Linked DNA regions of Homo sapiens: region 1 is linked to region 2. Evidence: fine-mapped expression QTL. A gene starts in region 2. The other region holds a variant in brackets. All regions are shown on one strand. Distances are between the middles of the regions. Region 1 overlaps ZXDC (ZXD family zinc finger C). Region 2 holds the start of ZXDC (ZXD family zinc finger C).

Region 1 (2,906 bases), 31 kb before region 2:
TGCAAATGCTAACCAGGAGGTTTCTGGGTAACACAGATTCAGTTCCCCCTCACTGCAGGGAGATGCACTTCCATTACAAAATACTTCCTTTCTGTTCATCCATCAGTGTTCCAGAAAACCCAGCAACCCTCGCTCTGGATCATCTCTGACTGTTCTCCACGCCTGGTTTCTCTTTTTCTAATTGCTCTACTTGCTTCAGACAGAAGAGCAGGGCTGGGTCTGGGGCAAGAGAGGTGCCTGGGGCACAAAACTTACTCACCCCTCCTTGAGGAAACTTCACATCAGTTCCTAGTACTGCAGTCTATTAAGTCTGCAATAACATTATGTCTAAAACAATGCATACCTTAATTTAAAAATACTTTATTGCTAACAAATACCGACATAGACATGAAGTGAGAACATGCTGTTGGAAAAATGGTGCCAACAGACTTGCTGGATACAGGTTTGCCACAAACCTTCAATTTGTAAAAAGCAAAAAAAAAGTCAACTGCAAAAAATGAAGCGTGCCTATATCCTCCGTGAGCTTGTATACTATCCCACTTACCTCCAGAATTTTACCTGAATGCATTTCTATGCTTTCAAGTCTTTTATCACCCTAGCATATAAAAATATGTACATAAACTTAACTTTTATTTAACTTCTAGGCATTAACATTTTTGGTTTGAACTGTTACAACTGCAATTATTAGTAATGCAAAACAAATCAAAACAAAATATATCAGAAACTTTGATAGATAATTATGATATTAAAAGCAAAATTATATTAAAAATGCTTTTCAAGAGGAGTGGGACTGACTGGTGGTTTTCTTCCCCAGTTAGTTCATGTATTTGTGTCTAAATATTACTTCTTGCTAGAATTAGACATGGTCAGCATCTATTCTTGTCAATTAAAAACTTTTTTAAAATAAGATGCTCATGTGTCATCACAACTTTGCAGCTGCAGGTTGAGTTTATTCAAGTGAGGGGGAACTGCCTGCCCACGAAGCCCCAGCAGCAGGGCCGGTGCTGCAGCCAGAACAGTCGCATTACGCTTGCTTTCTAATAAAAGGCCTGGCTTCATTTTTAAATTCAAATAAAAATACTGAAACATGTTATTATATTAGAAATATTGGCCGGGCGCAGTGGCTCACGCCTGTAATCCCAGCGCTTTGGGAGGCCAAGGCGGGCAGATTACAAGGTCAGGAGATCGAGACCATCCTGGCTAACACGGTGAAACCTCGTCTCTACTAAAAATACAAAAAATTAGCCAGTGGTGGTGGCGGGTGCCTGTAGTCCCAGCTACTCGGGAGGCTGAGGCAGGAGAATGGCATGAACCCAGGAGGCAGAGCTTGCAGTGAGCCGAGATCATGCCACTGCACTCCAGCCTGGGTGACAGAGCGAGACTCCCTCTCAAAAAAAAAAAATAATAATAATATGAAAACCACTGTAGAATAAATTAAGGCAGGCAGTGAATAGTGTATCTCTCCAGATTTCTTTTAAAAGCAGGCAAGATTTTAAATGATGTATATCAAGTATTTATTATCAAGTTTTATAACATAAACAAGATAAAACTGAGCCATTCATCATGATTCAATGCCAAATGTGTACGCCACGCTCTAAGTTACCTACAAAGCAAGAAATATGACTGAATCCTAATATTCCTTTGCAAAATGTGTGCTAGAATGTATGTGCCATT[C/T]GAATCATGGGAAAATCAGAATTGGGTGCAAAATCAGAAATAATTCCACTAATGTTGCTAGACATGGTTACACTTTCCTTTTATACCTAAACCAGTAACTAAAATGATTCTATCTTTATTAACAATTTACTTGTATTACTTTTACAACAGGAAAAAAGATAGGCTGTAACGAGAATATCTCATGACAAGCTAAATTGGTTTCAACTTCTGTATCAGCATACAATATGAAAAAAAATCACAGGAATTTCTTTTCAATCCGCACATTTAATTCAGTGTCTCAGGTAGTCCTGTAGACACCAGTTACACTGAGAAGAAACACCACCACTAATTTGCATCAGAAGGTATTTTTCTTCCCAGCTAACAACTCGTCTAGGGATAAAAAGTCAATAGCTGAAAAGAATTGCTCACGCTTATACATACATAGGGCTCATTCCTGAAAAGTAATACATTCTTTGACAACAGCAGAGGGCTGGCAAAGGTGAGGACTTTCTACGAGAGATGTCCATCCATGCCCCACATCCCCTCTCTGATGTACCTCAAGCAGAACATCTCAGCGTCCACCCCTAGACACATCTCTGCACAGGAAGGGTAAGCTGGCAAGCCCGGCTCATTAAAGTTTTAATGTCGGTATTATTCTACAGGATGCTTCCCTGAAACCAGTATTTGGAACTGCCCCTGGGTTTGGTGCTCTGGAAGGATATCCTGTTTTTGTGTGCACTCCAAGGCAACACACTGCAGTAGAAGTCTGGTGGAGAGTTGCAGCCTCCCCGTTTTTTGGCAAGCAGAAGGACAGCTGTGGGTGAGGGGGAGAACCTGCCACAGATGAGCTCGGACACCCCTTCTCAGAGAGTCCGTTCCAGCAAGGACTGCACCTGGAAGATGAACCTGGAAAGGATGCAGGGGTCCAGGCCAACAGCTGTGAGAGAACAGGGCAGCCAGGGGAGGAGGGGCCAAGCCCCAGTTGCTGAGTTGTCCCCCAGGCCTGAGCAGGGTGTTCTGTCCTAGAATCCCTGACGGTACACCCTGAAGTCTGGTGGTATGTCGTGAACATTTAAGATGGCTGAAAGTTAATCATAAACTTCCTGGGTTAACTAAGCAAGTATGTTTATCTAGGGATGCTTAAGGACATGCCAAAGCAAACAAATGGGGTCCACACCACGTCCTCACGATAACCATGAAGCCCTGGGTCCTCACTAGTAAAGGGCGCCATGGCATCAAATGCAATATGATCA
Region 2 (2,906 bases):
TCTCCTGACCTCGTAATCCGCCCGCCTCGGCCTCCCAAAGTGCTGGGATTACAGGCGTGAGCCACCGCGCCCAGCCACCAGCAGTGGACTTTATCCACAAGGCTCGGCCTCTGTCTCTTCATCTGTAAAAGAGGACAGTTTTTAACCTTCACAGACGGCTAATTTTTAAAACTTCACAAAACTGTGAGGTTCAACGGAAATCAAAGTGCAAAAGGCAAAAAAAGCCAGGATGTGCGCACACCTGTGGCTATCCTCCCAGCGTGTTAAGGTCCTGAATCTGGCCACATTCATCTCTGCTCCTCTAGCACGGAGTGTGCACCCCGTAAACAAATGACGAGACTGAGGAAAATAAAGACCTGACACATAGCTCCGTGCCACTCTGTGAAGATGCGTGCCGCTTTCATCAAGCACAAGCAGGTTAAGGATATCTGTTGCCGCCACCTTTGGGAAGCGCAGCTGTGGTGATCTGCGCTACCTGCCATCGGAATCCCTGCGGCAGGGCAGGGCCAAGATCTCAAATCGAATGACATGGAAGGAGCTAGAATACAAATCCCGAAGAGCCTGCGTCCCCGGCTTGCTAAGGTCTGGCAGGCCCCTCTGTGGGGCGGACGTGGCACCCCAGACCTGCCTGCAACACCGCGCAGCCCGCCCGCCCCCGAGAGCGCGGTTACCGGGAAAGTCACACTTGTAAGGGCGCTCGGGCTCGAAGTGGCTGCGCTGGTGGGAGCTGAGCTTGGCGTGCGTGGGGAAGCGCTCGGCGCACACCTCGCACTTGAACAGGCTCTCCTGCTCGTGGCCCTTCATGTGCGCCTTGAGGTTATAGACCGTAGTGAACTTCTTGCCACAGCCGCCCACTGGACAGCCGAAGGGCCGCAGCTTGTCGTGCGACTGCAGGTGCCGCTTGAGCTTGTAGGACGTTGTGAAGGCCCAACCACAGCCCTCCAGTGGGCACTTGAAGGGCCGCCGGCCCTGACCGCCGCCGTGCGTGAGCAGGTGCACCTTGAGCTGGTGCTTCTTGGCGAAGGCCAGCGCGCACTGCGGCTCGGGGCAGCGGTAGCCGGGCGTGCTGGGGCCGGAGGCCTGGGGCGCGCGGCGGGGAGCGGCGGCGCCCGCGGTTGCGGGGCCGGGCGGCGCAGACAGCGCGAGGACGCCGCGGTCGAGACGCACCAGCAGGTCCTGGCTGCTGATGGTGACGGCGCCCGCCGGGGCTACGCCAGGGCCGGGGGGGGCGGCCGGGCCGCTGGGGCCCTGCTCGGGGCGGCTCGCCAGGTTGACACGGGAGCCAGGCTCGGCCTCCTGTGATCCGGCAGCCTCGGCGGCAGCGCCGCCGTGCGGCACTTCCAGCAGCACCAAGAAAGAGTCGCCGTCGCTGTCGTCCTCGGCGGGCGGCGGGCTTGGCCCGGAGGCCTCCCCGGGCCGCGCCCCGGGCCCGCCATCTTCAGGGCCCCGCACCAGTAGCAGGCGGCGGCGCGCGGGGCTCGCGCCGAGCGGCGCTGGGGCTCGGCGGAGCGGGCCGGGGCCGCCGCCATGTTGCCCTCCGCGCGCAGTCGGGGCGGGGAGCAGCGCCGGGAGGTCCATCTTGGTCCCAGCGACGGCGTCGGAGCAGCTTCGGACGCAGAGCTGCCCGCGCCCCGCCCAGGTGTGCGTGCGCCGCCCCGGGACGCGATCCGCGCCAAGCCCCGGCGTAGAGTCCGGCTCGGAACCGCGCGTGCGCGGACGCCGCCGGGCGATGCGCGAGGCCTGCTGGGCTGACGTGACGTGAGGCTGGGCTGCGGGGCGCCGGAGGCGGAGGCGGGGGCGGGGCGCCGGGACCGACTAGGGCGGGGCGCGGGGTCGGGGGGCGGGGCGCGGGGTCGGGGGGCGGGGCGCGGGGTCGGGGGGCGGGGCGCGGGGTCGGGGGGCGGGGCGCGGGGTCGGGGGGCGGGGCGCGGGGTCGGGGGGCGGAGCGCCGGCACCTACGAGGGCGAGCGGCGGGGCACGGGACCGACAGGGGACGGGGTGAGGCTCCCAACGCTGAGCGATTCCTTCTCGTTCCCGCTGGCGTGGAAGACGAGGCTTGTCTTGACTTCGAATCGTATTAATATTTCAGACACTTAACAGGCAACCTCTCGTAGGCATTGACTGCGTCCCAGGGGCTGTACCTGTCCGAGCTGATTAAGCGTGCGCGGTCACCCAGGGGTGAGGAAACAGGGACGGCGAGCTCGAGTCACTCGGCAGCCGGCAGATCCAGGATTCGAACCTGTCCAACAGGCCGGACGCCTACCCCCAGCTCACTTAAGTGCAAGCTCGCCTGCCGCCGCTGGCGCACAGACCTCGTTTGCTTTGGCCCAGGTCCTTGCTCGGCACACGGGGCCTCCCTGATACGCAGGACCCCTGCCTGTATTTCCAACTGTATTTCCTACTAAACTTGGCACAACCTCACTCTGCAACAGCTTAATTACTTACTGTTTCCGGTCCTCACCCTCCCCCACCTCACCGTACACCTCCGCATTCAATCTGGACTCCTCCACTTCAACTTCACCACCACTCAGATCCAAACCCGCACTTTATTCCTGGGTACCTGAAAAATAACTACTAGCTGGTCATCGGTCTCCCTCCGCTCCACTCGCTCCCATCCACGGGGCACCGTTTTATGATCTAAAAATTGCACATCAAATTATGCTCACCTCCACCTTGCTCCCGAAGGCGCCTATGGCCTTGCTAGTCTACCCTCCCCTACCTGTTTGCCCTCACTTCCCGCCACTCTCCCGCTGCCCCCCCCACCCCTCCCCCGCACCCCACCTCTTTTTCCCAGTTCATCCAGCAAGCCAAGCTGGTTCCAGCCTCAGAGACTTGGCGCAGCTGATCTCTGATTCCTCTGGGAGGACTCTGCGCCCCTTCTGATCCAAAGCACATGCTTACCCAGT

What was found.
Region 1: its variant is fine-mapped to the expression of ZXDC in whole blood (TOPMed, PIP above 0.99).

What each region holds. Positions count from the first base shown.
Region 1 is chr3:126,443,142-126,446,047 of GRCh38, forward strand. The region is part of intron 7 of ZXDC (ZXD family zinc finger C); the gene reads right to left. Among named protein-coding and RNA genes, the nearest start is that of ZXDC, 31 kb to the right of the region's middle. The variant C/T (reference allele first, on the strand shown) is at 1,675.
Region 2 is chr3:126,474,288-126,477,193 of GRCh38, forward strand. It overlaps ZXDC (ZXD family zinc finger C), which reads right to left and starts at 1,604. Exons shown (of 10, transcript NM_025112.5): 1 at 672-1,604. The coding sequence starts at 1,578. RefSeq lists an enhancer at 1-476 and silencers at 1,034-1,293, 1,364-1,873.